Linked DNA regions of Homo sapiens: region 2 is linked to region 1. Evidence: fine-mapped expression QTL. A gene starts in region 1. The other region holds a variant in brackets. All regions are shown on one strand. Distances are from middle to middle.

Region 1 (16,448 bases):
AAAATCCACAGATGGAATGAGCCAATGGAACTTGAAATAGTACTGCATTCTAAAAAAGCCACAACATAACTACTTTTAAATGTCCAAGTCGATGAAGAAAGATTCAAATATATGAATCAGGGATGAAAGATTATAAACCATGAAAAGGCAGGTTTGAGAAGAACAGTTTCTTTTTACTTTTTTTTTTTTTTTGAGACAGAGTCTTACTCTGTCGCCCAAGCTGGAGTGCAGTGGTGTGATCTCCACTCACTGCAACCTCCGCCTCCTGGGTTAGAGCAATTCTCCTGCCTCAGCCTCCCGAGTAGCTGGGATTACAGACGCCCACCACCACGCCCAGCTAATTATTTTGTAGTTGTAGTAGAGACAGGATTTCACCATGTTGACCAGGCCGGTCTCGAACTCCTGAGCTCAAGCCATCTGCCCACCTCAGCCTCCCAAAGTGTTGGGATTACAAGCATGAGCTACCATGCTCGGCCTACTTTTTTGTTTGTTTGTTTGCTAAAACAAGTCCCTTGAAGCCTGTAAGTATTTAACACGAATGAGAATGTTGGCAGCTTACAGCACTTGAAAGACCTAGCTTCTAAAAATAAGTGAATCTATCTTTTTCATATATATATATATTTACAAAGTATACTTTTATTATAATTGTATGTTTAAAAATATTGCCCAGTTGATTTTTTTTAGATTAAACTTCTGTCAGATTGACCTAAGAAAACTGATTTTCTACCCTAAAAATCTTTTTCAAAAGGTTGATATGTAAGTGCCAGGCACGGTGGCTCACGCCTGTAATCCCAGAACTTTGGGAGGCCAAGGAAGGCGGATCACCTGAGGTGGGGAGTTCGAGACCAGCCTGACCAACATGGGGAAGCCCCATCTCTACTAAAAATACAAAATTAGCTGGGCATGGTGGTGCATGCTTGTAATCCCAGCTACTTGGGAGGCTGAGGAAGGAGCATAGCTTGAACCCAGGAGGCGGAGGTTGCAGTGAGCTGAGATCACACTATTGCACTCCAGCCTGGGCAACAAAAGAGAAACTCCATCTCAAAAAAAAAAAAGTATTGCATAATAACCTATCAGGTAAATATATCAAAATTCATTTAACCATTATCTTACTCGGATAGTAAGAGCATTGCATACTCAATTCAACCACATCTATTCATCAATATTTACAAAGTGTCACTTATACACACTGAGGATATAGAATAAATGGTCCCTTCTGATCTAACTAGGAAGAAAGAAAGTATACACTTATAATGCAATTTGATAAAGATAAACTCAGGTTGATATTAAAACAGGTGGGCCAGGTAAGAATATCTGATAAAATCAGGTATAGCGCTCTATACAGAAAAACACAGATCAGAACAACACAAGGAAACAAAAAGCACTTGGGTTTTTATCTTTCCAGTCTTTCTCCCCATTATCACTAACAATGGGCATTGAATTACCCTAAAAATCTTTGCCAATTTTATTGGCAAAAATGAAACCCCATTTATATTTCTCCAGGAAATATAAATTAAATTTGAACATTTCACTATAAAAAAATCTTTTATTTTCTTTGACCTCTTTCTAATATAGTGTTGGCACACCTCTTATTATATGTTCTTCATTTAGGGTATGATTTTTATCTATAATGCTTTTTGCTAATGTATTTCCAGCTTGTTTGCCTTCTAACTTTGCATATAACATTTTTTGATATGCAATGATTTTTGAATTATTAGGTAGTCAAATATTTTTCTTGGAGTTTTTTTCCACTGCTTTATTTCTTAGAAGTTACTTTTTCTTTCAGAAATCAGCTAATTGTCAAGGCCAGGCAAAGTGACTAATGCCTGTAATTCCAGCACTTTGGGAGGCCAAGGAGGATGGATCATTTGAGGCCAGGAGTTCAAGACCAACCTAGCCAACATGGCAAAAACCTGTCTCTACTAAAAATACAAAAATTAGCCAAGCATGGTGGCACATGCCTGTAATCCCAGCTACTCGGGAGGCCGAGGCAAGAGAATCGCTTCAATCCAGGAGGCAGAGGTTGCAGTGAGCCGAGCTGGCACCACTCCACTCCAGTCTGGGCAACAGTGAGACCCCGTGTCAAAAAAACAACAAAAAAAGAAAAAGTCAGCTAATTGTTATGTGTCATTTCTTTCTAGATTTTGTAGTTTTTGTTTGTTTGTTTTACATTTAATGATTTAGAAGATTTGGGGCTTATTGTGGTTTCTTAAATATTATAACTCTATTTCAAAACTATTCTGCTATGTTGAGCTATCTTATTTCATACTGTATTTTAATATGTTAGGACAGTTCTCTCCTTACGACTTTCTTTTGCAAAAATTTTCTAGCTACACTCATTTGGATATTCTTCATGATGAACTCTGAGATAATTTTAACACATTCCAAAAGACATATTTTTGAGACTTATTAGAATTTTGTTAAAGATACTGATTTATTTCCAAAGAATTACAGAATCTAATCTTTTCATCTATGTATCTCTATTGAAGCATTTGTTTATGTCTCTTAGAATAGATACATTCTTTAAAATAAAATATAAGCTTTGTGCATTTTTGTGAGGGTCGTTTCTGCATGCTTTATTTTCATTTTATTCAAATGGAATAGTTCCCCATTAGCTTTCATATCTCATTGTTATTATGTAGGAATGCTATTGATTTATTTTTATTAAACCTAATTGTCTTTTAAAATATATTAATTTTAATATTTTTCAGTTGATTCTTTTTTATTACATTTTACTTATTTATTTATTTTCTTTTATTTTAAAATTTTCTTTTTTGAGATGGGGTCTCATGCTGTCACCCAGGCTGGAGTGCAGTGGCACTATCCTGGCTCACTGCAACCTACACCTCCCGGGTTTAAGCGATTCTTATGCCTCAGCCTCCCGAGTAGCTGGAATTACAGATGCCCGCCACCATGCCCGGCTAATTTTTGTATTTTTAGTAGAGACGGGGTTTCACCATGTTGATCAGGCTGGTCTTGAACTCCTGACCTCAAGCAATCCACCCACCTCGGCCTCCCTCCCAAAGTGGTGGGATTACAGGCATGAGCCATCACACCCAGCCCTTTTTTATTACATTTTAAAATAGCATTAATAGAAACAAGGTTTCACTATGTTGCCCAGGCTGGTTTCAAACTCCTAAGCTCAAGCGATCTTCCCACCTCGGTCTCCCAAAGTGTTAGGATTACAGGCATGAGCCCGGTCCAGTTTATTCTTTTGGATATTCTAGAAGTAGAATATAGAATTCTCTACATTTAACAATTGTGACTATTCCTTCATGACCATTTAAATTCTTCCTTTCCAATATTAATGCCAGAGTGTCTTACTGCACTATTTAGGTTCTCAACTGCAACACTGAATAAGAGTCGTGATAGCACGTAACTTTGCTGTGCCTCTGACTTCAACGATAATACTTCTGTAGGTTTTTTAGAGATGTATCTTCTTAAGTTTAGGAAATTCCCTTCTATTTTAATCAGTCATGAGTGGGTATTGAATATTATGCAATGTTTTTTCCCAGCATTTTCTGTCAACATAGATGAGAAGTAAATTGGCCAATTTCCACTTATTTGTGATTGTGGCTTTTGGTTGTGGTTGTTTTATATCAAAATAATAGATGACATTTGGTTTCTTCCTTAATTCCACTATGATGATAGGGCATACTCTATAGAATTTCAGTCCTTTAAAATTGTTGAAAAGTGCTTTACGACCCACTACATAATCAATAAATATTCTTTTTGCAGCAAAATAATATATATTCTGTAGTGTTGTATGTGTATCATGTCAATTTTGTTCATTGTGTTGTTCAATGCTTCTATGTCCTTTCTATTTTTTTCCCTGCTTGTTCTATCAGTTACAGAGAGGAATGTGTTAAAAATCTCAGGTTGTGATGGTAGATTTGTGTATTTCTCCTTTTAGTTCTGTCATTTTGCTTCGTATATTTCAATACTATCTTTTAAAGATAGCATTGAATTGATTCTTTTTTCACTAATGCATTTTATCTCTTATAATACTTCTTGCCTTAACATCTACTTTGTCTAATATTTTTATAGGTACAACCAATTTTCTATTAGGCACAATAGGCATACATAACCCAGAGATATTGCAGATTCAGTTCCAGACTACTGCAGTAATAATATCATAATAAAGCAAGTCACACAAATTTTTTGGTTTCCCAGTGCATATATAAGTTATGTCTACACTATTCTATGGTCTATTAAGTGAGCAATAGCATTATGTCTAGAAAAACAATGTACATACATTGTACATTTTAAATGAATGTATATGCGAAACAACATACATTAATTTTAAAATACTATATTGCTAAAAAGTGCTATTGATCATCTCAGCCTTCAGTAAGTTGTAATTTTTTTGCTGGTGAGGGGTCTTGCCTCCATGCTGATGGCAACTGACTGATCAAGGTGGTGGTAGCTGAAGGTTAGGGTGGCTGTAGCAATTTCTTAATATAAGACAAAGATGATGTTTGCCACATTGATTGACCCTTTCTTTCACAAAAGATTCCTCTGTAGCATGCAATGCTGTTTGATAGCATTTTACCCACACAGTAGTGATGCAGGATTTTTTTGCTCCTTATCTAGGCTCCTTAGCCAGGCTCCTCCCCTGCATAAGACACGAATTCCTGGTGGCTCCACCCCATTCCCCCAGTGCTTGTGGGCCTCCAGTTCACTGCGGGCATGCTCAGGCAAGTCCCCTGTGCAGGTTCCCTTATCTGCACAAAACATCTGATGTAAACACTTGTGGGGCGAGTTGGAGATTCTCCGGGGACCCTTCCCTATCTGCCTAGGCCTTTGTCTGCCTCTTGCCTCTATCAGTAGGACTTCCTTCAAAATTGGAATCAAAATTGCCACCATTTTATCAACTAAGTTTATGTAATATTCTAAATCGTTTGTTGTCATTTCAACAGTGTTTACGGCATCTTCAACAGGAGTAGATTCCATCTCAGGAAACCACTTTCTTTGCTCATCTATAACAAGCATCTTCCACTGATGTCTTGAGCCCCTCAAAGTCATCCATGAGGATTGGAATCAACTTCCTCAAATTCCTGTTAATGTTGATATTTTTAACTCCTCCCATGAACCATGAATTCTCTTAATGACATCTAAAATGGTCAGAAGATTTTCAATTGACTTTGCCCAGATCCATCAGAAGATTCACTATCTATGGCAGCTACAGCCTTACAAAATATATTTCTGAAGTAACAAGACTTGGAAGTCAAAATTACTCCTTGTTCCATGGACAGCAGAATGGATGTTGTGTTAGCAGGCATGAAAACAATATTCATCTCCTTGCACATTTCCATCAGAGCTCTTGGGTTGTTGGTACATTGTCAATGAGCAGTAATATTTTGAAAGGAATCTATTTTTTTTTTCTGAGCACTAGGTCTCCAGACTGGGCTTAAAATGTTCAGTAGACTATGTTGTAAATACATGTGCTGTCATCCAGCCTTTGTTTTTCGATTTCTAGAGCATAGGCAGAGTAGATTTGGCATAATTCTTAAAGGCCCTAGAATTTTTAGAGTGGTCAAAGAGCATCGGCTTCACCTTAGAGTCATGAGCTGCATTAGCCCCTAACAAGGGAGTCAGCCTGTCCTTTGAAGCTTTGAAGCCAAGCCTGGACTTTTACTCTCTAACTCTGAGTCTTAGATGACATCTTCTTCCAATAGAAAGTCATTTAATCTACACTGAAAACCTGTTGTTTCATATAGCTCTCTTCATCAATTACTTGAGCTAGATCTTCTAAATAAATTCCTGCAGCTTCTACATCAGCACTTACTACTTCACCTTGAACTTTTATGTTATGCAGATAGTCTCTTTCCTTAAATCTCATGAATCAACCTCTGCTAACTTCAAACTTTTCTTTGGCAGCTGCCTAACCTCTCTCAGCCTTCAGAGAATTGAAGAGAGGTAAAGCCTTGCTCTGGATTAGGCTTTGGCTTAAGGGAATCTTGTGGCTGGTTTGATCTTCTATCCAGACCACTCAAACTTTCTCCATATCAGCAAGAAGGCTGTTTCACTATTTTTATCATTCCTATGTTCACTGGGGTAGTATTTTTAATATGTTCACTGGGGTAGTATTTTTAATTCCCTTCCAGAACTTTTCCTTTGTATTCACAATTTGGCTAACTGGCTCAAGAGGCCTAGCTTTCAGCCCATCTTGGCTTTCTACATGCCTTCCTCACTAAGCTTAACCATTTTGAGCTTTTATTTCAAGTAAAAGACATGGGAATCTTCCTTTCACTTGAACACTTAGAGGCTGTTTTAGGGTTTTTAATTGGTCTATTTCAATATTGTTGTGTTTCAGAGAATAGGGAGGCCTGAGGAGAGGAAGAGAAATGGGGGGCTGATTGGTGGAGCAGTTAGATCACACACATTTATCAATTAACTTTGCATGAGTGCAATTCATGGTACCCAAAAGCAATTACAATAATAACATCAAAGATCAAAGATCACGGTCCACCATAACAGATATAATAGTAATAATAAAGTTTGAAACATAGTGAGAATTACCAAAATGTGACAGAAAGAAATGAAGACAGCACATACTGTTGGAAAAATGGCACTGGTAGACTTGCTTGATGCAAGGTTGCCACAAACCTTCAGTTCGTAAAAAATGTAATATCTGCAAAGTGCAATAAAGCAAATTGCAATAAAATGAGATATGCCTGTATTTACATGGCATAATTCTTTCCATCCTTTCAATCTTTCTGTAGCCTTTTATTTGAGGTGTCTCTTACAAGCAACATATAATTGATATTATTTTTAATTCTGTCCATAGCATTTGCCTTTTAACTGGAGTATAGATTCCATTTATATTTAATGTACTTGCCAAAAAACCCTCCTGTTTTAAAAAATTTACCTTTTTTTTTTTTTTTGAGACAGAGTTTCACTCTGCTGCCCAGGCTGGAGTGCAGTGGTACAATCTCGGCTCACTGCAGCCTCCGCCTCCTGGGTTCAAGTGATTCTCCTGCCTCAGCCTCCCGAGTAGCTGGGACTACAGGTGCCCACCACCACGCCTAGCTCGTTTTTTGTGTTTTATTTTAATAGAGATGGGGGTTTCACTATGTTGACCAGGCTGGTCTCGAACTCCTGACCTCAGGTGATCTACCCTCCTTGGCTTCCCAAAGTGATCATCTATTTGTTTCTACTTGTCTGTGTTCCTTTTTTCCCTTTCTTGCTTCTTTTATTTTTTATTTTTTCATTTCCCCTCTTTTTTACATGTTATTCATTCTTTTTCTATTACTTTTGCTGTTATTCTAGAGATTATAATATTCATTATTGATGTATTAAAGCCAAGTACTTTTATCAATTCCTATACAATCCTAGGACTTTAGAACACTTTACTTTCATTTACTCTATCTCACTTTTTGTGCTGCTATTGTGTATATTTTAATTCTACATATATTTAAACTTCACATGACGTTATTTTTATTGTTTTATATAAATTGTGTTTATTTATATCTATCCATATATATATATGTATTTATATCTATCCATATATAAAAGGATTGATTGCTCTTCATTCCTTTAGATGTCTCCATGATTTCATTTGGGATTATATTCCATCTGCCTGAAAAACTCCTTTTGGAATTTCCTTTAATGTAAATCAGCTGATGATCTTAGTGTTTCTTGGTTATAAAACTGGCTGTATTTTATTTTCAATTTTGAAGATCATTTTTACTGGGTATATAATATAGGTTGATAGGTAATTTCTCCTAGCGCTTTGAAAACATTTGAAGGTGTTTAGGCTTCCATTGGTTCTTTGAGAATAAGCTTTTAATTTTATTGTTGCTCATTTGCAGATTATATCTCTGTTTTCTTTGCTGATTTTAAACCTTTTCTTTTTGATTTTGTTTCTCAGTAGTTTACAATGTGCCTAGACATGGTTTTCTTTGCTTGAAATCCTGCTCTATGTTCATAATGTTTCTTGACTCTGAGAATTGTTGTTCATTAGTTTTAAAAAATTTCCAGCCGTTATCTTTTCAAATACTGCTTCTTTTCCTTTTTTCTCTCACCTCTCTTCCTGATATTCCAATTACGTGTGTGTTAGAATGTTTTACCACATATCACATGTGTCATAGTCTCCTTTCTGAGACCTTATCTCTTTTATAGAAAGTTCTTTCATATCTCTTGTATGTCATTTTTCATATTTTGTTTTGCTTATTAGCTTCACTAATTCTTGCTTAAGTTGTATCTCATCTGTTATTAAGCCCATAATTCTGTAGTAGTTTTAGTTAGTGTGTTTTTTTCTCCAATTCCAAAATTCCATTGTATTCTTCTTTGGAGTTTCCAGTTCTCTGCTGAAAACTCTTTATCTTGCAATTTAATTTCTTGAAGATATTTAACAGAATTATTTTAAAATCTGTCTTTAAACTTTAATATCTGGATCTTCTGTGTGTTTATTTCTGTTTTCTTTTTCCCTTAGTTTTTAAGACAATTCTGTGTCCTTTGTTTAAATTAAGTTTCAGACATGGTGTATAAAATATTATATGGGTAATGTGTTGCTCTGAATGATGCTTTTTTTCCCCAGAGAGAATATTTACTGTTGCCATTTGAAGCTGGTTTTCAGCCCTTGGGTCTATTTCCCGTTCATCCACACCCCTAGGGTATAGCTCTTCGGAGTCCCAGCTGAAAGCCTAGTTGCTTACCAGCCCCTCATCATAAATAGGTCCTAAACTCCAATTTTTTTTTTGTCTCCCCAACCCCATGAGATGACTGAAAGCTCTGCTTACTTTCTCACTCTTTCAGCCATGGCTTTAAAATCATCAAATACCTCATGGGAAAAGTGGTGGCTTTCTGAGCTGCCTATCTTTCCAGGATTTCAGTCATCCAAGTCCTTGCTGGGAGAGGAAATTTTTAACTTTTGTCAACTTTTCTATTTTTTCTTAGTGAGAATATTGAACACAAATAAACTAGTATATCAGTGCCAGAAGCAAAACTCCACTGAGACAGTCTGAGTAGAGCAGTGGTGTGATTTGGTTTCGATTTTTAAAAGATCACTCTCATTGCCTTGAAAATGAACTATGCGACATTAGGGAGAAAGAAGGATGGAAGCAGGTGGTCCAGTTAGTAAACTATCACAATAATCCAGGTAAGAGATAACGATGGCTCAGGCCATGGTGGTAAGGTGGAAATAGAGAGAAGTGATCAAACGCCGCATCTAGTTTGAAGGAAAAGACAAGAGGGTTTACTGACAAACTGGAGATGAGCATGAGAGAGGAATCAATGCTCATCCCAAGATTTTTGGCCTGAACAGCTAGAAGGAAGGAGATGAAGAAAACTGAGACGGGGAAAGCTGGGTAGGAGTGCATTCATGAAGACCAATCAGCAACTTACTTTTGTGTATGTTAAGTCTGAGATGCTAATTTGACATGTAAGTGGAGATGCCAAATGCATAGTCAAATACACCAGTCTGAAGTTCAGGGAATATTTGGAAGCTAGAGATACAAATTCTGTAGTCATGAGCATATAGATGGTAATTAAAGTCGTAAGACCGGATGAGAGGACCTCGAAAGTAAATATAGAGACGACTACAGACAATATAATAGTGTCTATTTCATAGGGCCGGTGTGCAGGGTTAATAATATTTATACAACTCTGCCTCCAGACCCCTCTCCCAGTGTACGGAGATCAGGATCTCATCACCCCTCCCCACCACGTGAAGTCCTGCTTACAGCTCAAATGCCTTTTATTAACCGAAGTGCCTCCAGACCCCTCCCCTCCTCACCACGTGAAGTCCCGCTTACAGCTCAAATGCCTTTTATTAACCGAAGGTCAGCTTTTGTGACTCTCAGACGCTCAACAGGTGCGCAACTCTGCTAACGCAGTAGGCTGTCCTGGCCAAAGGGTGGTGCTGTGAGTCGCCTCCAGCCTCCGGGCCGTCCCGAAAGCTGCACCTTCTCCCCCTGAGCTGCAGAGGGCGCGCGTGAGGCATCGGGCGCTCAGGACCCCGCGGGAGCTCAGCGAGGGGGCGGGCGGCCACGGAGTGAGGCCGGGGCGGGGTCGGGCGCGGGGCGGACGTGGGGAGGGGTTGGCCGGGGCCAGAAGCAGGGTGCAGGGCAGGCGCGGGGCGGTCACGGGGGCGGGGCCGGTCGCGGGGCGCGGGGCGGGCCCGAGCTACCGGTAGTCTGCCTGCCGCAGTCCGAGCGCCGCGCTGGGGAGAGCGGGTGTTTGAAGGCTCCGCGGACCGGCACTAGGAGCCGGGGGCGGGTCCGTGACCCTCCGGCTGCTCGGAGTGAACAGGCGGCCAGGAAAGAAGCGGGCCTGAACACCATGATCCCTTTGGAGAAGCCAGGCAGCGGCGGCTCCTCCCCAGGCGCCACCTCAGGCTCGGGCCGGGCAGGCCGGGGTCTGAGCGGGCCGTGCCGGCCGCCGCCGCCGCCCCAGGCCCGCGGGCTGCTGACAGAGATACGCGCCGTGGTGCGCACCGAGCCCTTCCAGGACGGCTACAGCCTGTGCCCGGGCCGGGAGCTGGGCAGGTGAGGACGGGCGGGGCCCGGCGCGGAACCTTCCCGGACGCGCGGGGCGGGACGTGGGCGCCGATAAGTGCCGGCGCCGCGGCGGCGAGGCTGAAGTGGCGTTGCTGCTGCCGATAACGCGCGTTGTGACTTGGCACAAACTTGGGTGCCGACGGCAAGTAGGGCAGCCGAGTCGCACCAGCGCCCCCTCCACGCGCCGCGCCCAGCAAGCGAGTGGTGGTAACTCGATGGCGGTCCCGGAGGCGCGGACACTTTCCTCAGCCCTTTCGTTCTCTGTGGCGTTTCGAATGGCTATTTAACGAGAGAAGGTGCGGGCCGCGCTCTGCCTTTCACCCCGAGCAGCGGGTCTGAAAACCAGAGGTCTGTGGAGCCGACTTTGCATTTTTCCTTCAACTCTTGCGACTTTCTTGGTCTGCCTGTGTGGTTTTAATAAAATACAGCATCCGTTGTGACCGCTTCCTTTGCACCGGCGCTCTGTTACCTTGTGTCGGTCTTCTGCTGAATTCATTTTCGTTTTCTTGGTTGGTTTTCTGCCGTTTTAGTTCTAAAGCATTTAGGTCCCTTTGCTTCGAGTTTAGATTGGTTTCTTTCGTGGGCGCTTGGCCCTTTTCTCGCTTTTTACTTTGCTGGGAACCGATTCTTGCCTTCTCCCCCCACCCCACGCTAGCCCACCCTTTTTTTGTGGGAGTAGAGAGAGCTTACAACTTGGTCTGTAAAGTTGCAGGTGCAGGCTGTTCGGATGCTTTACATTTTGTATGCTGAAGAGGGGTGATCGAGTGATTTTTGTGGGGTTTGGCGACTCTTCCTTGAGAACAGTTTGAAGAAGTTGTTAAATACTCTGGCTTTGGGGGCAGACCTGAGTTCATATTCGTGCCCTTCTTGCTGTGTTTGCCTTTGGAGGGGTTAGACTCTCCAGCCTCACTTTCCTCATCCGTAAAATCGTATAATGATGACAGTACCTACCTCAGAGGTGGCCTGAAGATGCCATGCTTGTCAAGCGCATACCACTGGGCTTGCCACATGGCGTTCAGTAAATGTTCGCATTATTGCCAGCATTTGTCATGGTTGCAAAATAGCACCATGTTGTAATGGGAAAGGGCCTGACAGTTGGAACAGCCTTCAGCTGGGGTCTTGGAAAGGCAAACAATGTAACATTGGTTATAATGTTAAAAACACACTGCCTTACACATATTAAGGTAACTTTTGGAAATAGTTTTTTTTGGGGGGTGGGGGTGTAGGGAGGGTGGAATCCTACCTTAACAAAGTCTTACTTATTCCTAAATGTTAACAAAAGGAAAAACACCTTTCAGGAACAAGATTTACTTCACTGCTAGGCCCTAGTTGACTGGATCTGTGCATACTTTGTGACAAAAGATGAAGGGAGCTGTGACTTAGCTGTGTATTCTAATTTGTCGACATTCCAAACATTCTGAAGTAACCCCTATTACCTGAAAAAAGGAAAACTGGCCGGGCGCAGTGGCTCACGCCCATAATCCCAGCCCTTTGGGAGGCTGAGGCGGGTGGATCACCTGAGGTCAGGAGTTCCAGACCAGCCTGGCCAACATGGTGAAACCCCGTCTGTACCAAAAATACAATAATTAGCTGGGCCTGGTGGTGGGCGCCTGTAATCCCAGCTACTCGTGAGGCTGAGGTAGGCGAATCACTTGAACCCGGGAGGCGGAGGTTGCAGTGAGCCAAGATCGCGCCGTTGCACTCCAGCTTGGGTGACAGAGTGAGACTCCATCTCCAAAAAAAAAAAGGAAAACTACGTTTTTCCATTATTTGGTTGTCTGGCTTCATTCCACAAGGAAAACCGGTGCAAATATTACAAAACGAATGTCTTCAGGTGGCAAGCACTGTCTTGGAGATGTTATAATCTGGAAACTGATTTGCACCCCACCAGGTGTTATGGTACCAATTCCTTCAGGAATGTTTCTTTCAACTTTTGTTTTAAACTCCATTATAAAATTAGCTTTCCGATCAGGTTTTTTTTTAAGATTGTGATATCTTCTACATATCTTTTCTTACATAAATTTCTTTACAAAAGGAGTAGATTGTAAAGCTGCATAACAATGCAGTTATTAGATAAATACTTGATATAAGAGCCTGGAACTGAAAAATAAAATTAAATCTATTCTTTCCCTTGTGGCACCCTTTTTTATCGCATAGGAGTTTAATGCAGTGCTTAAGAACATTGGCTTTGGAGTCAGACAGTGTGAGATTGAATCTTGGCTCTTACTAGTTATGTGGACTTGAGTGCATTACCTAACCGTTTATTGCCTCATAGGGTTGGTGAGAGAATTAAGTAAAACACATAGCCTTAAGGCTGTGCTTAGCTTAGGGGAAGCACTCAATAAATGTAATTCATGGTGTAATTCAATAAATGTTATTATTTTAAATGTAACCCAAAAAGAAAACCTGCACAATCTCAAAAAATGCCTCTATGTCTGGCAAAAGTAATGAAGTCACAGGAACTGTTCAGAAGTCTCAGGAAGGAAAAGTTCTGTTTGTGTATAAGCAGTCCTTGTTTAAGTTTTATAAACTTTGCCTGTATTTATGGTTTTAACATAGCTAAGTGTGTCTCTGCTTCATCTTTGATAAGATAGAAAACCTATTTTTCCAACAATTAACTCTGGTTGCATTTCTGATATAACTAATTAATCTCACGCTGATAAAGAACTTGGAGAATACCCGTGTTAATAGTTTAATGATGTGGGAAGAAAAACAGATTTTTTTTTTCATTTTATTCTATGGCCTTTCATTTAGTAAAATGCAGAAGGGGTGTGATGAGTTAACTGTTCAAACAAATCATTCTTTTTCAGGTGCTACTATGTTATCACAGATCTAAAACTTTCAATGAGATGACTGTTCAAAGAGAATTTTTTAAATGGTCAACATTGATTCCAGAGTAATGACAGGATGTGATGTTGATCATTTAAGAAATGTTGCATTCTTTCATGTCTCCAACAGAGTCCATAGCAGCGTAAATAAGGGTAAATATATGATGTAAAACATTCTTTTATTGCTTGAAGCTTGACTGGTTAAGGCTTGTTACCTTTCTTTGAGTCAGGATGTATGCCAATGTAAACCACATTAATGATTTCGTTACTGGGGCACACAAGAGAAATGACCTTGGGTTCTGATAATTTTTTCGTGTTGATTTCCCTTGAGTTTATTGATAATATAGAAACAGAAAGATGTTTCAAGGAACTTAAAGATAACACCAGTTTCATAGCAAATGATTTGCCTTACATTTGTTTTCATTATCTAGTCCTCAACTTTAATGTTTTTAATATACCGATAAATTTTTTCTTAAGAAAAAAATATTTTAAGCCAAAAGAACACTTTAAAAATATTAGTACATGCTAATAGTTGGATTTTCCTAAGGAAAAAAGTTACAAATACAAGTTCCCATCTGAAACAGGTACTTTATAATGTGCAGGCCTTACAGTTTTACAAGTGCTTTCACATGCATTATCTCATTGATTCTCACCACAAGCCTGTTTGGAAAGCCCCATTTTTCAGATGAGAAAACAAAGACAGATTTAAAAGTCTTGTGAGAGATAACAGAGCTGGGACTCCTGACTTTGAAATCATTCCCATTACACCACACATGTTTTTCAAAGAATAATTTGTAGTCTGTATCTTATGACTAAAGCAATTTCCTGTCATTTTAATGAAATGATATGTTTTTATTGTTTTTTGTTTTTTTTTTTTTTTTTTGAGATGGAGTCTCGCTCTGTCGCCCAGGCTAGAGTGCAGTGGCGCGATCTCAGCTCACCGCAAGACCCGCCTCCTGGGTTCACGCCATTCTCCTGCCTCAGCCTCCCGAGTAGCTGGGACTATAGGCGCCTGCCACCATGCCTGGCTAATTTTTTGTATTTTTAGTAGAGACAGGGGAAAGGATCTGTTAATGAGTTCTACATTGGAACAAACATGACCAAGCTTCAGTGTCATATAGTTAAGTTCCCACTGGGGCCTTAAAGTAAATTAGGGATGTCCTATCTCATTCTCCTCAGAGCAGTCAGGGGTAATAGGGACAAGAGAGGATTTTTATCAGAGAATAAGAGAATATTCAAACTGAAAGGGGACTCTGGGTGGGTATTTTGGGGACTGTGTGTCCTTACCTAGATTGATGGCTGTAGGTAATAGCTTCAGTTTTTGTATCTGACAAGAACTTAAGCGTGTGTCATAAGTTATCATTTTTTAACAAATAAAGACCTTTATTAAGTAATATCCATGCAGAAATTGCTTTGTTTTAACACAGATGTTATTTAAGATTTCTTGACAGCTAGTCATTAGTTTGAAGAATTTTATTTACAAACAGTTTTGGGTAATCTGATACTTTGGATAGATAAAAGAAAATTGGCCATATTTGTGGTTCAACAATAAAGTTACTTGGAAAGTATGGCTTCTGCTCTTAGGCAGGTACTTTAAGTCAGTCAGCTGTTTAATTTTGAAAAGTTCATGCTTCAAATGTTAAAATCTTAATTTAAAATACATGAATGTAAGAATTTGAATTTTAATCTTTTCATAAAACCATAGATGACACAATTTTATAAAATATGATTATTGAACCAAATGCATTAGAAAGCTAAGTAGCTATAGTCACCTCTTCAGGTAAGTAAGAAGTTAACTAGATTTCTTGAGAGAATTTACACATTATGTAGACTTAATAGCTCACCTCCAGAACTCCTGTTCTGATATTTTTTTTAAATTATTATCATTGGTTATATCATAGATCTGAAATTAATGCCAAAAACAATAAAAATAGCCACTGATTATTGATCATTTGCTGAATGCTACACACTTTAAAGATGTAATTTTGTATAGTCTTCACTGCCCTGTATGGTAAAGTGCCATTGATCTCATTTTACAGATGAGGAATCCCAGGTTCCAAAGGATTAATAAATTGCCCAGTATTACACACTTGTTAGCCAGAATTTAAAACCAAGTTTGACTTGTAAGGCCCTGCCTTTTCTTATCACGCATGCTAATGTCTTATTTGAATGGACTCACTGATTTTTACGCCTAGGGTCTTTTCCTTGGTCCTTTCAGCGATAAGGAAGACAAAATCCATTCTAGGTTTTTCCTGAATGGAACTTCTTTACGTTTAAGACATGGCTCACACCTGTAATCCCAGCACTTTAGGAGGCCAAGGTGGGCGGATCACTTGAGGTCAGAAGCTTGAGAGCAGCCTGGCCAACATGGTGAAACCTCATCTCTACTAAAATTACAAAATTAGCTGGGCACACACCTGTAGTCCCAGCTACTTGGGAGGCTGAGGCGGGAGAATTCCTTGAACTTGAGAGGTGGAGGTTGTGGTGAGCAGAGATAGTGCCACTGTACTCCAGCCTAGGTGACAGAGTGGGACTGTGTCTCAAAAAAAGAAAAAAGACATCACTCCAGTGTAATTAGGCAAATACTGTACTTATGTATCAAGTACATAAAAGCACTACCTTAGGCTCTGGAAGCTATTCCCAAATGTAACAGATCAATCACTGTCCCCTTTATAGGCAAGATGATATGCCACTGGAAGGTCTTATGGGGGAAATAACATTTCAGTTGGGCTGTAAAGAATGGATGGAATTTCAGTAGTAGTTGCCATTGTCAATAAAACAGCAAGTCAGAGCAGTAGAAAAATTCAGTGAAGAGAGAATGGCAAGTAGTCCAGTATATTAAATGTCATGAGGTTAAGTTGCCATAAAACTTTTATTTAACAAAATAATAAGCAGTATATATACTAGGTGTGCTGATTATATTTGCACACCTGCCATGTGCAGGGCACTATGGAGATAAAAAGATGAAGAATAAGTGAGGTCCCTGAAACTCACAGTCCAGCTGGGAGACATAGTACAACAAGTTGTAATATATAAGATTGACATAAATATAATAAAGGTATAAACAAAGCACTTTAACCTAGAATAAAACAGGACCTTGGACATTATTTTACTTCCC
Region 2 (16,448 bases), 460 kb after region 1:
TCGTAGGTATTCCAGAACCCGCCAAATATATTTGGTGGCCCTGATATCACTACTTTTCCCAGTGGCTCTGGACCCTGACACAAAAGGGAACTCCTAGAGGGAAGGGCACAGAGGGACAGGTCTGTGACTTCCTCCCCACAGGCCAGGACGGTCAAGCCTGGAAGAAACCAACCCCCCTCCAGCTGCAGGCTTCCTACTTGTCCCACATGTCCCTGCCCTAGATACACATCTGGGTCACCCTCCTACAAGGTCCCTGCTCGAATGCCACCCATCAGAGGTCCTCCCTGACCACTCTTTAATTAATTTACTAATTAATTAATTTATTTATTTTGAGATGGAGTCTTGCTCTGTCACCAGGCTGGAGTGCAGTGGCTCGATCTCAGCTCACTGCAACCTCCACCTCTCAGGTTCAAGTGATTCTCCTGCCTCAGCCCCCCAAGTAGCTGGGACTACAGGCACACGCCACCACGCCCAGCTAATTTTTGTATTCTCCCTGACCACTCTTAATAGGACAGACCGCTCCCTGCTATACCCCACTCTCTTCCCTCCCTTGCTCCCTTAGTCCCTTCTGGTTCCCTTCAAGTCACTATCACAATTTGCTTTTTTTTTTTTTTTTAAGAGACAGGGTCTCACTCTGTAGCCCAGGCTGGAGTGCAGTGGTGTGATCATAGTTCACTGCAGCCTCCAACTCCTGGGTTCAGGCTATCTTCCTGCCTCAGCCTCCCAAGTAGCTGGAATCACAGGTGCATGCCATCATGGCTGGCTACTTTTTTTTTTGTAGAGATGGGGTCTTGCTACATTGGCCAGGCTGTTCTCAAACTCCTGGCCTCCAGTGATCCTCCCACCTCAGCCTCCCAAAGTACTGGGACTACAGGCATGAGCCGACATTTGAAACATGTATTTATTGGCCCATCTTCTCCCTGGGATATCAGCTCCATGAGGGCAGGACTCTGCCTCATCTGTCACTGTATCCCCTCACCTAGAATCATGCCTGGAACCTAGGAGGTGCTCAGTAAGTATTTTTTAAATAAATGAATGAATGAGTTAATGAAGGAACAGATGAGAAGGTTACTTGAGAACATGCACCCAGAGCCACACAGAGCATAATGTTTGATTATTAGGCATTGATACAGACACAGAACCACACAGGTGCCAGCTCAGACTTTCTTTTTTAGAGAAAGGGTCTTGCTCTGTTGCCCCGGCTAGAATGCTGGGATTATCCGCGTGAACCAGCGTGCCTGGCCCCCATCTCAGTTATCTGGAAATAGTTTCCAACAAACGGGTGCAACGTGCAAATTTCACATCACGGGGATGCACCTGTCTGTGCACTGGCCCACACACAGACCTACACATGGATGCCCAGGGAAAGACATGGGCCATGGCCTCCTGGGGGCTCAGGCCCCTGGACAACACACACACACCTGTCCCTGACACCTCCCAGATTAGACACACCCTGCGGTGCCTGATGTAGCTGGTAGCGGGGCGAGAGGCTCAATCAACTCTTTTCTCATCCAGTCCACTCAGGCCCCTCCCACAGCACCCAGGCCACTCCCACAGAGCTCAGGCCACTCCCATAGCACCCAGGCCATTCCCACAGCACCCAGGGCATTCCCATAGCATCCAGGGCACTCCCACAGCACCCAGGCCACTCCCATAGAGCTCAGGCCACTCCCACAGGGCTCATGCCACTCCCACAGTACCCAGGCCACTCCCACAGCACCCAAGCCACTCCCACAGTGTTCAGGCCACTCCCACAGCACCCGCTCCCCTCCCCGCACCTTGCACTGCAGGTAGGCAGTCTGGGGCCTGCCGGCGTCGTCCGTGTAGATGACCTGCATGACGTGCGAGCTGCCAAAGTTCTTTTCCTCAACCTTTTCTGCTGCCCGGATGTTGGCTAACTTGATGAGGGCGCTTTTCTGGGGCAGTCAGGGAGGAGGAGGCTCAGGGACCTAGCCAGGGGCATTCCATTCCCCATCTCTGGGCCTCAGTCTCCCCTTCTGCAGCACCAGGGGTAGGCGTGGGAGACCCAGAGTGACCTCAGCCAGGGCAGAGCACAGACTGATGGTGACCAAGTGCCCAGCAACTGGGAGAGGAGGACCTGGCCTCTCTGGGGGGCACTCCCAGAAGGCCTCGGAGGTGTGAGCTTTGGGGTAGTGTCTGGACAGCCAGCATTCCCTGGGCTACAAAGTCAATCCAGCCGTGGCCAAGGCTTTGTGACTTTGCATTTATTAATTTTCCAACTTGCTTTTGTAGTCCCAAGCTCTAACAGTCATATCCTGACCGGGCGCAGTGGCTCACACATGTAATCCCAGCATTTTGGGAGGCCGAGGAAGGCGGATCACCTGAGGTTGGGAGTTCGAGACCAGCCTGACAAACATGGAGAAACTCCGTGTCTACTAAAAATACAAAATTAGCCGGGCATGGTGGTGCATGCCTGTAATCCCAGCTACTTGGGAGGCTGAGGCAGGAGAATCGCTTGAACCCGGGAGGCGGAGGTTGCGGTGAGCCAAGATCGCACCATTGCACTCTGGCCGGGGCAACAAAAGTGAAACTCCATCTCAAAAAAAAAAAAAAAAATGGGACCAGAATTAAATAATGCCCATGTAGTCAAATCTTTCAACCCTGGCAAGGAAGATGTATAATAATCATCTGAGTGCTTTGGGAGGCTGGGGCAGGAGGATTGCCTGAGGCCAGGAGTTTGAGAACAGCCTGGGCAGCATAGCAAGACCCCATCTCTGCAAAAAAAAAATGTTAAAGAAAATTAGCTGGGCTTGGTGGCACGTGCCTGTAGTCCCAGCTACTCAGGAGGCTGAGGCAGGAAGATTGCTTGAGCCCAGGAGTTTGAGGCTGCAGTCAGCTATGATCGCACCACTGCACTACAGTCTGGGTGACAGAGCAAGACCCTGTCTCAAAAAATAATTATCATCATCTGAGGGGTCTTTGGTCGGAAGGGGCGGGCCCCTCATCTGGTGGGACCCCTGAGCTGGTTGAGAACAGGGTGGGTGATGAGCTCCTTCACCTACTCCTAGCCTGCTCTCACCTGCCCAGGGCTAGGCTGGGTACTCCTGGAAGATCATCCCCATAGCCTGCATGACTAGGGGCAGGTGTACAGCAAGCAGTCACCAGGTCCATGGAGGAAGTATGTCCTCAGCCCTTCCTGGGAGAAGAGAGCTTGCAGGAGAGGTGACCCATGACTCAGAGAGGGCTGTACAAGGTGATCTTTGAGATCCCCTCCCACACCAAGATTCCATGCTTCTATATTCCTGCCCGTTCCAGGAAGCCTCCCCTGTTTGCCCTAGCCTCCTACTCATCTAGCAGCCCAGGTGATGTACTATCTTTAATAATACCATTTGCCTAAATAGTACTACCTGCCAGGCCCTGGGTCAGGACCCTTAGGGAGATCATCTCATTTAATCCTCAACAACCTGGTAAGGTCGGATCAACTTCCTCCATATTCATTTTTTTTTTTGAGACGGAGTCTTGCTCTGTTGCCCAGGTTGGAGTGCAGTGGCACGATCTCGGCTCACTGCAACTTCTGCCTCCCGGGTTCAAGCGATTCCCGTGCCTCAGGCTCCCGAGTAGCTGGGACTACAGGCACCCACCACCACACCCGGCTGATTTTTTGTATTTTTAGTAGAGACGGGGTTTCTCCATGTTGGCCAGGCTGGTCTCAAACTCCTAACCTCAAGTGATCCACCCGCCTTGGCCTCCCAAAGTCCTGGGATTACAGGCGTGAGCCACCGTGCCCGGCCCTCCTAGGTTCTGACAAGCAGTACAGATGCCACACACCTGGCTTTCTTCTCTGACCCCGGGGGTACCTCAAGTGGGCTCCAAGGAAGGGGACAGGTGCCTCTAAGGTGCCCCACTTGCCGGCCTCTCAGAGCCCCACTTGCCGGCCTCCCTCCTTACCCACCTTGGAGCTGGGCGTCTTCGCGAAGCTGAGGGCCTCGGTAGTGAGGGAGAAGTAGAGCTTCTTGAAGGAGGAGGACATGAGGGGGCCCTTGCCCTTGGTCCTGTGGATGAAGAGTGGCCCCTCCTTCACAGGTGGCGCCTGCAAACTCAGCGTCCGCTGCAGGTCCAGCTCTGCCAGGCCAGGGAGGGAGGGGAATAGAGAGCCCAGGGAATGAGGGCGGGACTGGGGGGGGGGGGCGGAGCAGTGGGCGGGGCCATGGGGCTCAAGGGCTGAGCAAATCTGAACAGCAGGCAGTGGACGTAGTCATGGGGCTCAAGGGCGGAGCAAACATCAACAGCTGGTGGTGAGCGGGGTGACAGGTGGACTGAGGAAGGCAGGGCCATGGGCTTGGAGGCGGGACACGCGTCAGTAGCAGGTGGCGGCGGGGCTATGGAGCTCAAGGATGGAGCAAATGTCAACAGGCACAGATGATGGGAGGTGAGGCCATGGGTCTAGGGGTGGGGCAAACGTCAACAGCAGGCAGTGGGCAGGGTCACAGGAAGCACAAACAGTGGTGCGTGGGTCTATGGCCTGGGGGCCTGGCAAATGTCAACAGCAGGCGGTGGGTGGGGCCACGAGAGGAACAAACAGCGGTGGGTGGGGCCGTGGGGCTCAAGGGCGGAGCAAACGTCAGCAGTAGGCTGTGGGCGGGTCTGTGCAGGGCGGCGCTCACCGTCCTTCTCCTCGATGTCCACGAGCTTGGTGATGAAGTCCTTCAGCTGCGCCACGCCCTGGCGCACGGTGGGCTGCAGCGGCTCCATCCAAGCCTCCTTGGCCCTGGAAGCCGGCGTGTCCATGTTGCCCACGTTCTGGACTGCCTGGAGGTGACAGCAGGAAGGACCAGGTTCTGCTAGGTTAGGGGCCTAGCCACTGCACCCCCTCCCACCCCCCCTCCCCAAGTCTTTGCTACTCAGCTGTAGCGATGGAGGCAGAGGCGACAGAGGCCATGCCCACGGGCCCCCTCCAGCCCCACTAGGGATCAGGGAGGAGAGGATCATGAAGTTTGATGCCTTATGATAACTGAGACCACTTGGGCCTTCCTCTGTAGGTTTAACTGACGCTGCTGCACTGGATACCCCACCCCGGTGCCGGGCACATAGGTGCAGCCTGAGAGTAAGCAGACCTGGGTTGGAAGGTCCCGCGATTCACCACCGACAGGATGGGCGGCCTTGGCAACCCCCGACCCCTCGCAGGCCTGTTCCCTTATCCATGAGATGGAACTCGGACAAGGTGGCCACAGGAAGGCTTTGCAAACTGTGAAGTGCAGTGCCTACGTGGGCGTGCCAGTGGCCTCGCCGGAGCCGGTAGGGAACACTCTGCAGTCCAGGCCAGGGCCCCGGTAGGACACCCAGCTGTGCATCCCGCCCGTGGCCGCAAGGCCCGCACCTTGGCCAACAGGAGCAGGGTGCGGCTGGTGCGGGCGTCCGCGTGGCGCTCCCGCAGGTGGAAGAGCTTGGGCGACATGATGGCGGGAGAGAAGAAGCGCAGGCACAGGAAGCTGGTGACGGCGATGAACGGTACATTCTGGAGGGGTGCGGAAGAGCGCGGGCTGGAGTCCCCCAGACCAGGGCTCCTGGCAGCCCCCTCCCCTTAGGCTCCGTCCCTGACCCTCGCCGGGACACAGCCTCCCTGGTCCTCCCCAGCGCTCCCTGGTTCCCCACCGCTCTTCGCCCGCCCCTCGCCCCAGCCCAGTCCAACCCGGCCCAGCCTAGCCCAGCGGGTGGAGGGCGCACCTCGTGCTGGGCGCCGGGGAAGCGCTCGCGCACGCGCCGGAAGAGCTGGCGGAAGGTGGCGCGCACCACGGCGGGGCACGCGGGAACCGAGCGGCTGAGCGCGCTCAGCAGGGCCCCCAGGTGGGCGCGCAGCGTCTGCGCGCTCTGCTCCAGCACCTCGGCCTCGGTCTGCGGGCGGTGCAGCCCGGAACACCTGCGTGGAACGGGGCGGGTTGGCAGAGGAGGTCACGGTCAGCGCCAGGGCCACGACAGGAACAGTGGCTCTCACAGCAGCCGGGACACGGACACAGGGGACAATACACGGGTGGGCAGAAGCACAAACACACATGCTGACAGGGCCTGATCCCAACCCGCTGCCGCTGCGCCCCGCACCCCCCCGGAGTTACCCCCGGCCTCACCCTACATCCTTAACTTCCACTTTGCTGGGGTCCAGCTCCACGTACTTCTCCTCAAACACCTTGTTGATGATGGGGCCCAGGACGCCGTGCAGGTACTGCATCCCGGCCACCTGGGGACCACCGCAGGTCACATTGATCCTGTCTCCCCCAGTCCCACTCCAGCTGCCCACCTTCTCCCGGCAGCCGCCCTTGCACCGTTTGCCTGCCGTATCCGCCCAGGAGGGGGACAGGTACACAAGCAGGGCAAACTGTTTATTCATGAATGAATGAATGAGTGAGTGAATGAATGACTAGAATTCTTAGCCCTTGTAATCCTAGCACTTTGGGAGGCCGAGGCAGGAGGATCACTTGAGGCCAGGAGTTTGAGACCAGCCTGGGCAACATAGTGAGACTGTCTCTAACTTAAATTTTAATCACACACACATTCTTTTGGGGGGGGGGGGTGCGGGGCACGGAGTCTAGCACGGGGCCCAGGCTAGAGTGCAGTGGCGTGAGCTCACTACAATCTCTGGCTTCTGGTTCAAGTGAGTCTCCTGCCTCAGCCTCCCCAGTAGCTGGGATCACAGGTGCCCACCACCATGCCAGGCTAATTTTTGTATTTTTAGTAGAGATGGGGTTTCGCCATGTTGGCCAGGCTGGTCTCGAACTCCTGACCTTAAGTGATCCGCCCGCCTCAGCCTCCCAAAGTGCTGGAATTACAGGCATGAGCCACTATGCCCAGCCACATTCTTAACCTTAAAGGGCTCTCAATATGGAGATAGAACACTGGAGTCGAAGTCCCAGCCCCCTCTGTCGCTCTCTCTGAAGCTCAGTGTTGTCATTTGCAAGATGAGGACAATATAGCATGCAACCTCACCTTCAGAAAAGACTCCATGGACTTTGAGGCCAGAGAGTTGCTCCGGAACAGGGTGTTGGTCTTTTGTTACTTGGTCATAAGTAGGCGTTTTCCTTTTGATTTGGTTCTAGGAGGTTAGTGTGCATTGGCGTTCTGTTGCCTGCTTCCAGCCCCTATTCTCCTGCCTCAGGTTCATTAGAAAAGACTGAGTTTGGGGCCGGGCAGGGTGGCTCACACCTGTAATCCCAGTACTTTGGGAGGCCAAGGTGGGCAGATCACGAGGTCAAGAGATCGAGACCATCCTGGCCAACATGGTGAAACCCTATCTCTACTAAAAATACAAAAATTATCTGGGCATGGTGGCACGTGCCTGTAGTCCCAGCTACTCAGGAGGCTGAGGCAGGAGAATTACTTGAACTTGGGAGGCAGAGGTTTCAGTGAGCCGAGTTCGTGGTCACTGCACTCCAGCCTGGCTACAGAGTGAGATTCCATCT[C/CA]AAAAAAAAAAAAAAAAAAAAGAATGAGTCTGGCCCCTTTTTGTCTTTCTCTCATCCTCTTTGCCTTTCACCATGTTATGATGCAGCAAGAAGCCCCTCATCAGATACTAGTGCCATGACCTTGGACTTCCCAGCCTCCAGAACTGTGAGAAAATAAATTTCTGTTCTATGTAAATTACATAGTCTGTGGTACTTTGTTATAGCAGCACAAAACAAACAAGACAACAAGCAACAATCATGTGAACAGAAAGAAAAATGGGCATAACAAATGAACCATGTTTTTGTCCAAATTAGGTTCACAAGCCCTTATCTGCACCATCCAGACTCAAACACCTTAAGATTTTGGTAGTTCATTTGGTAGCAAAAACTGACCTTAATTGTCATGAGGATATTTAGAGTCGTCTTATATTCCACTTAGCTGATTATTCACACATATCACACACTTAGCTGATTATTCACACATATCACAGCAAAAGCATGAACATGTCTGATTACCAGTTCCTGTCCAGATCCTGTGATAAGGGCTTACCCAGGACATACATGGTATAACTTTTCTGAAATCTTAGATTGAATTCCAAAGCACATCTGGACTTAAGGGATTGTGGATATATACATATATATACTATATGTATATATATACACATATGCATATATATACATATGTGTATATATATACATGTGCATATATACATATACATATGCATATATAATATATGTATACATATACATATGCATATATATACATATGCATATATACATATACATATGCATATATACATATGCACATATACATATACATATGCACATATATACATATGCATATATACATATGCATATATACATATATGTATACCTATACCTATGCATATATATACATATATGTATACCTATACCTATGCATATATATACATATATGTATACCTATACCTATGCATATATATACATATATGTATACCTATACCTATGCATATATATACATATATATGTATACCTATACCTATGCATATATATACATATATGTATACCTATACCTATGCATATATATACATATATGTATACCTATATCTATGCATATATATACATATATGTATACCTATACCTATGCATATATACATATATGTATACCTATACATATGCATATATATACATATATGTATACATATATACACACATAGTATATATACATATACACTATGTGTGTGTGTATATATATACACATATATATACTATGTGTGTGTATATATGTATATATATACTATACTTTTTTTGAGACAGAGTCCCGCCCTGTAGCCCAGGCTGGAGTGCAGTGGCGCTATGTCGGCTCAGTGCAAGCTCTGCCTCCCTGGTTCACGCCATTCTCCTGCCTCAGCCTCCCGAGTAGCTGGGACTACAGGCGCACGCCGCCACGCCTGGCTAATTTTTTGTTTTAGTAGAGACGGGGTTTCATCGTATTAGCCAGGATGGTGTCGATCTCGTGACCCCTTGATTCGTCCACCTCGGCCTCCCAAAGTGCTGGGATTACAGGCGTGAGCCACCGTGCCCGGCAGGATTTATATTTTAAGGAGGCAGGGGAGTTATTCTCCATGGGAGGAAATAAGCCGTGAGCTGCCTTGCGCTTTGGCATGTTTCTCTATCATACAGATAAGAAGCTAGTTCAGTCAAGTGTATGCAGATTTGTGGATGGAAAAACTGGTGCTCCCAGGAGGAGGGGAGCAGATTGAGGAATTACTGACACCTTCTAGGGGCGACCAGCCAGATGTGCAGGTGAAGCACAAGACAGGTTCTCTTCATGCCTCCACTATCCTGGCCTCGACCAAACTGCAGAGGGAAAAACTCAGGTGAGAGTGAGAAAGCACAGTCACTTTCAGTTAGGTTTGTAGCGGTGTGATCGTCACTTAGCACTCATTTATTCGTGTATTCATACATTTATGCATGTTTCTTTCACAGATCAAACTGTTGAGGGTCCACAAACAGGCTGAAGACCTCGTCTGGAGGGAGACTGCAGTGAACCCAAGATCGTTCAAATAAGCGCATCGACATAACAAGATTTAGAAAAGAATAAGCACGGTGCTGTGAGAGCAGCTAGCGGGGGCTGGACTGGGTCCCTGCGGCCAGGCTTCCAAGTCGAGCTGCCGTTTGGGTGGGACCAGAAGACGGGCTAGTCTGCGCCCCAGGATCCCTCCCTGAGGACAAACAGAAGGCCGGGTCCTCCCTTCTCCCGCTTGTCCTTCGGCATTCGCGGGACCTGCATGCTAGACCAGCTGGCCGGACAGCTCGCTAGGACCCGCGGGTGCGGCTGGCCCCTACCATTTCCGCTTCCTGCCGTGGGGCGGGGTTTCCGGTTGTCGGAGGCGAGGCTTGTCGGCTGTCAAAGGGGCGGCCCGGCCCGGCCCGGAAGCTACAGCAGCGGCGCGGAGACTGCGGGGCGGGCCATGGCGGCGAACCTGAGCCGGAACGGGCCAGCGCTGCAAGAGGCCTACGTGCGGGTGGTCACCGAGAAGTCCCCGACCGACTGGTGGGCGGCGAGACGGGCCAGGGTCGGGCCAGGGGCTGCCTCAGGGGTGGGTCTGTCTGGGGCGAGCGGGGGACTCGGGGGGAGCGGGAGCGCGAGCGCGGAGCGGTGCCCAGGCAGGTGGCCTGGGGCTTACCTGTCTGCCCCTCCACACCGCAGCAGGAGTGCTGTCTCACCCTCGTGACCCCTTGCCCCGCCGATCGTGGACAGGTTAAACCCGGCTTGGGGGGACCCAGTGAGTCCCCGCCCCTCCCCCTGTCGCTCGCCACCCACTGTGGGCTTCGCGGGCTTCCATGTTGGATCCTCGGCCTGGTCGTGCTTGCTAGCTTCGCCAGGTTCTTCTTTCCAGTCCTGGGACTTCCCTGGAGAAGGGGTTCCTGCACAGCCCTCTCTGAGAAGGCGGAAGCCACGCCCGGTTTTTTTGCAAACGCTGTGTTCGGGGATGGGCATTTGAGAGCGGCCTGGCAGCCGGGCTGTGAATGTGAGCCCTGCCCTGGGGGCTTCAGACGAGGAGCTCAGGGATCTGGGTTCTTGGCTGTCTGTGAACGTGGACTTCAGAACTTTCGTTTCTCCAAAAAGTGTACTCTTTCTTGTGCCTGAGCCATGGGAAGATGTACGAAAGTAGGATGCTCGCTATCTATTTGGGAAAAGGTCCCATTTTCCCTCTACCACCCAAGATATCCTCACTTTCCTCTTTGCTTAAATTGTTTTTACTGACCAGTTTTGAGAAATCCCAGTTCTGAGAAATATGCTGAGTATGGTGGGCTAAGGTGACCAACTTTGGGGAATAGAAACTGGGCCTTGGAGTCTGAGTCGTGGTGGGGCCACACTGTGGTCAGCACTGAGGCCCTCCCAACTGTCTTCCCCTTGTGTGGGGGCCATCTCCACTTGTGTAAGTGCTTTCTCATCTCCTCTGCTCTCCGTAGTGCCCAGCACAGAGCGGCTTTTATGCAGTGTACTATTGTGACCCTGAGGATGTTATGGCTTTGCTTTTTCCTCAGCCCTGGGCCATTAGGGGAAGAGCTTTAGAACACCAGTTGCTTGGTTCTATGGGGTCTCTGTAGACTCTCCTGTCAGGTCTGAGTGCCCTGGATGGCACTTATGCCAAACAGCACATCTTCTGTTTTGGAGGCATCTAAAGAAGGATATCTCGTCATTTCCTTGGTGGGGTTTTCTGCCTGCTTTATAATCCCTCAGATTTACCCACGTCAGTCAGTGTTATTTTTCTCAGGAGAGTTTCTAGATGTCAGCCCTCTGTTTTGCCTCTCTCCTATTCCTGTTCGTGTTTCTCTTAGACCTCTCCTGTTACTTCAAACCCAGTCAAAAGTATCTCTGCAATGAGTGCCCCATTTTCATGTCCACATCATACCACTTGGCTTTAGAACCCAGAAGAATCTTTGCCCCTCTTCAGCCCTGCCAAATTAAAGATTTTGCTTCTTAACATGCTCTTGATCACTCTGTTTACCCTGGCAGACTTACCTAGGAGCTTCCTGGCACTCCTCATCTATCTCCCTTCCAGGTCTCTCTTCATCATCAGTCTTCTCAGGAACCATCACTGGTTTGGGATGATGCCTCCCAGCCCACCTGGCAGTTTGGGCTTCCCTCTTCAGACCTCCTATGTTCCTAGCCTTTCCTTGGGCTGCTTACGAGAGCTGTCTGCTACCACTCCTGGCCCGGTGCTTACCCACCCCATCTACTCTCTGTCCCTCATGAGGGTTGTGGAGCCTCCTCTTTCCCCTCATGAAGTCAGAACCCACCCATCTCACTGGACTCATCTGCCCAGACAGCCATGCTATGCTCCCTCCCTACCTCCAGGCTCCTGCAGCACTACAGGTTGTGTCACTCAGCAGCATAACCCACTGACCTCCACCCTCATCGTCACAGCCATTAAGGTAGTTACTCAGCAGATACTATGTGGCAGATTCCTGCACACTGCGGAAAAATATCTGGACCATGTCACTTCCGTGTCTGTAACTCTACAGTGGCTTCCTGTTGCATGTTGAATAAAGCCTAGACTCCTTGCCCTGCTGATGCCCTGCATGACCCAGAACCTACCACCCCTTTCATTTACCACACTGTGGCCACACCTGTTTGTCACCACTCTGGCCGTCTTTCTCTTCCTCAAACTTACAAGCTGGTTCCTCTTCAGAGTCCTTGCTCTGCTGCTTCCTCTGCATGGAGCACACTTTTTCCACATCGTCCCAGGTGGCTCCCCAGCCTTCACTTCTTGGCCCCGAGGTTGCCTTCTCAGAGAGGCCTTCCTTGATTCCTAGCTCCTTGTTTGTAGGCACTTTTTCCCATCTTTCTGTTTGACTTCCTTCAGACACATGCCAGACACAAAATATGCTGGAAATCCTTATGGATTTTCTTGTCACCTTTATCTCTTACTAGAAGGGGTGGGGTGGGCTCTGTCTCTGTCCTCGGTGCTTGAGGCACGGTTGTTACATGTGGCAGATGCTTAGATGAAGGATGGACCAAGTCATACAGAAAAAGTGGTAGAGATATCAGAGGAAGAAGAGGTGGTCTCTAGTTTGGTGGGTCATAAGAGGTTTCACACACACAGTGCTGGCATTGGGGAGGGCAGATAGAGTGGGGAGCAACCATGACATCAGCTCTCCATCTTGGATCTGTCTCCCGCCCCTGCTTACTCCGTATCTTGGCATGGTTTGTTCTCACCTGGTTCATGTGTCACCTTCAGCACCTGCTTCACTCTCTAATAGTACGTTAGTGTTAGGTGTGTGTTTTTTCTTCCGTTAGAAAGTAAGTTCCATGGGCAGGACCTTTTAGGGATTGTTCATAGCTGCATTCCTGTAACTAATAAGCAGTAGGCTCTCAGTACTTATTTTCAAAGGCACTATTGAATTATAAGATGCTTGACACTCCATATGCCTTGCTGTTCAGAGGCCAGTGCACCATGTTTTTTCATGTTGATTTGAAACTTCCTTCGCCCTTCTTTCAAAAGGCCTCTGAACTGGGAATGAGCCTCTGCGCTGGGAACATTCTTAAAGGTGGCCTGGGGTAGAGAGGGATCAAGTCAGAGGGATAGGTGGCAGGCATTGAGCTTGGCTCTTATTATATTAGCTGCTGAGTCCCTTTTTTTTTTTTTTTTTTTTTTTGAGACAAGAGTCTTGCTCTGTCGCCCAGGCTGGAGTGAAGTGGCACGATCTTGGCTCACTGCAACCTCTGCCTCCCAGGTTCAAGTGATTTTCCTGCCTCAGCGTCCCAAGTAGCTGGGATTACAGGCACCCACCACCACACCCAGCTAATTTTGTATTTTTAGTAGAGACGGGGTTTCCCATGTTGGCCAGGCTGGTCTCAAACTCCTAACCTCAGGTGATCCACCCGCCTTGGCCTCCCAAAGTGCTGGGATTACCGGCATGAGCCATCGCAGCTGGTTGAGTCCCTTCTTGCAAGAGCTGGGTTGAGCTGCCATCTTCTGTTACCTGCTGCTTGTGCCAGCTTGCTATCTTCTGGGAGCCAGGGCTTTGTGGCCATCAAGAGGAATGGGCTTCTTTCCTCCAGGGAGTTCCCCCCAGCTCATGCTGGCAGTGTGCCACCTCCCAAATCTTTCTCTTGTTTTTCTGTGTTCTTTTCTCTAGTTCCTTTTCTCTGAGTGTTTCTCATTCAGTGTTTCTCTCCTGTATTCTGTCTCCCCTCCTGGTAAGGAGTGCCTTTTCCCGGAGGCCTGTCTCCTCCCTACCAACCAGATCCACTGGGCCTGGGTCTAATTTCTTCCATTTTTCTGAGGCATAAGTATCTCTGCCCAGTGGCACTGGCAAAGCCCTGGGGAAGCCAAGTTGAAGCTGATTTGGTTCCTGTCCGACTGTTTATCCCTGGAGCTTCTGTCTGGCCTGCCTCAGCAGGCCTGTGCTTTAGAGCCTGGGGAGATGACACACACTGGACTGGGTTTTGCCTTTGACTTATAGTCCAGTGGGTCAGTGCCTCCAGCCCATGTCCAGCAGCCCTGCTGGGGATGTTCAGTTGCTGCAAGGTTCATGCTATTAGCAAGCCAGAATGAATCTTTACCAGAGTTTTGTTTTTGTTTTTGTTTTTAAGAGTTGGGGTTTCACTCTGTTGTTTGGGCTGGAGTACAATGGCATCATCATGGCTCACTGTAGCCTCGACCTCCCAGGCTTAAGCAATCCTCCCACCTCAGCCTCCCGAGTAGTTGGGACTACGGGCATATGCCACCACGCCTGGCTGATTTTTGTATTTTTGGTAGAGACAGGGTCCCACCATGTTGCCCAGGCTGGTCTCAAACTCCTGGGCTCAAGCGACCCTCCTGCCTCAGCCTCCCAAAGTCCTGGGATTACAGACACGAGCCACCCACCTGGCCCAGAGTTCTGTTCTTTTTTTTGAGATGGAGTCTCACTCTGTTGCCCAGGCTGGAGTGCAGTGGCGCGATCTTGGCTCACTGCAAGCCCCGCCTCCCGGGTTCATGCCATTCTCCTGCCTCAACCTCCTGAGTAGCTGGGACTACAGGTGCCTGCTGCCACGCCCAGCTGATTTTTTGTATTTTTAGTAGAGATGGGATTTCACCGTGTTAGCCAGAATGGTCTCGATCTCCTGACCTCGTGATCCACATCTGCCCGCCTCGGCCTCCCAGAGTGCTGGGATTACAGGCGTGAGCCACTGCGCCCAGCCCAAAGTTCTTATGAATAATTAATCTTTCAGGAAAAGAAAGCCATGGCCCCATGTCACCCATGGAGAGATAAGGCTCTGCTAGATAGAAAACTTGCTCATGGGTACCTGTCCGTGAGGGGCTTGGCAGGTTCATGGCTTTAACTGTGTGATTTCATGTCGTGTCATTCCTTTGTGGTTTCTGATAAACACAACCTGTGGTAGTCTGTGTTTACCAAAGAGTCTCAAGCCTGGAAGGACCTGCTGCCCTACCCACCAGGCTTCACTGGAGCCAGGGCAGACGTGCACAGGAGTGGTGGGCAGCCTTCCAAGGGGCCCAGTGTGTGTATTTCTCCGACTTGCTTCTCCTTTTGGGTGCTCTGGGTTCAGGAATATGTAGATATGTTTTGTCTCTTCAAATCCATATACCTAGTGGCCAGGTGAGTATTTGACACATGAATGTATAGCAGTCATTGGGAAACTCCACAGCTCATGTTTTCCTCATAGTAGATGTGTGCTCCCATCTCCATGGCTTTGTCCCTCACAACCCCCACCCCATGGTAAGTCAGGCCAGTGTCCTCCCAGCTGCAGAGCTGAGAAGGCTGCACAGTTGCCTACTGAGAACCTGCCTAGTGGGTCAGAGCAAAGTGAGAACGGGCCTGTGCCCACCCACAGTGTTACTGTCAGCCCAAGCTCTTTGGGATGTAGTGGAAAGTCATGGTGGATACGGTGAGGAGAGATGGAACCCAAGGTGCTGGCTACAGAGCTCACTTGTGTTTCGTTTCAGGGCTCTCTTTACCTATGAAGGCAACAGCAATGACATCCGCGTGGCTGGCACAGGGGGTGAGTATGACTCCAAATGGACTCAGGGACACCAGGAGGTAGGAGGGTGACGACGAGGGGTCAGCGCACTCAGCTGTCTTGGTCCACTGAGCCACATGGGGCTTCCAGTGCTCACTGGCCACTTCTGGCAGGCCTTAGGTTTCAGATATGTGTAAGTGAAAACATTCCTCCTTGGTTCTCCTTCCCTCTGGGTGCAGGGGAGTGCTTTCTCTTTGTCTACTTGGGGAGAGCTGAGAGGGAAACAGGCCTCTCCAGCTTGTGGGCAGCCTGCGTTGGGAGCTGCGGTGGGAAGCTCACCAGTCCCAGAACTGGTGCTGGTGGAAAGAAAGTCCACAGACATATCTTCTTCTCCCTTTGTCCTGCCCTGGTCTTGTGCCGAGTGCTTGCAGGGGCCCCATCCTCACTGGGAGAGGCAGTATCACTGCAGATAGTCACGGGGGAGGCTCTGGAGGTCTCTACAGGAAGGACAGGCTCTTGGCCAGCACAGAGCAGAGGTTGTCAGGGTAGGCTTCGTCAGAGTGTGACCTGTGGGCCCCTCAGCTGACACCCGTGACTGCTCCTCCTCCAGAAGTTGCCTGACCCCTCCCTCTGTCCTGAGCTGGACATGGCTTCATTGTTCAATGAACACTCGGAGTGGTTCTCCACGGTTTGATGTCTGTTGTTGGTAGAAAGCCCCTTCCTTTCACAATCTTTCTGGGAGGTGTCCCCTTTCTAGAAGGATTGCCATTGAACAGTAGACATGTGGTGTGGCAGGTGACTGGGAGTTGCAGAGATCAACAACTTGAGAGTTTCCTGTCATCCCCAGTGGCACAGGACAGGGCTCTGCCACAAATGCAACAATTTGCTGTCCCCAGAGTGGGGCTCATGACTGCCTCCACTCATACGGAGCCCTGTAGATGAAATACCTGATCAGCTCTTCCTCCTTATAACCTGGAAAAGTTTGTGAGGGCTAAGCCTCAGTGTCAGGGAGAATTGTTTAGAGCTGCCCACTCCTGTGCTCCCCCTGTCCCCATCACCCTCTCTTCTGGAGTCTGAGGACTGAGCCAGTTACGCCACTGCAG

Alleles and levels. Positions count from the first base shown, and alleles are read on the strand shown. Sizes are in standard deviations (SD) of each study's normalised expression.
As copies of CA replace C in region 2, the expression in monocytes of the gene that starts at base 10,149 in region 1 goes up (moderate effect, 0.48 SD a copy in Quach 2016).

What was found.
Region 2: its variant is fine-mapped to the expression of STK17A in monocytes (Quach 2016, PIP 0.95).

The regions. Positions count from the first base shown.
Region 1 is chr7:43,572,960-43,589,407 of GRCh38, forward strand. STK17A (serine/threonine kinase 17a) reads left to right here and starts at 10,149. Exons shown (of 7, transcript NM_004760.3): 1 at 10,149-10,490. The coding sequence starts at 10,285. RefSeq lists enhancers at 4,170-5,369, 4,501-5,002, 10,949-10,998, 11,129-11,238, 13,967-14,026 and a silencer at 9,769-10,548.
Region 2 is chr7:44,034,894-44,051,341 of GRCh38, forward strand. It overlaps DBNL (drebrin like), which reads left to right and starts at 9,809. Exons shown (of 13, transcript NM_001014436.3): 1 at 9,809-9,927; 2 at 15,332-15,387. The coding sequence starts at 9,845. LINC00957 (long intergenic non-protein coding RNA 957) reads left to right here and starts at 4,156. Exons shown (of 3, transcript NR_072982.1): 1 at 4,156-4,256; 2 at 5,001-5,469; 3 at 9,360-9,403. It also overlaps the pseudogene RASA4CP. RefSeq lists enhancers at 1,491-1,990, 10,007-10,507 and silencers at 5,442-5,531, 5,622-5,731, 9,849-10,068. The variant C/CA (reference allele first, on the strand shown) is at 7,413.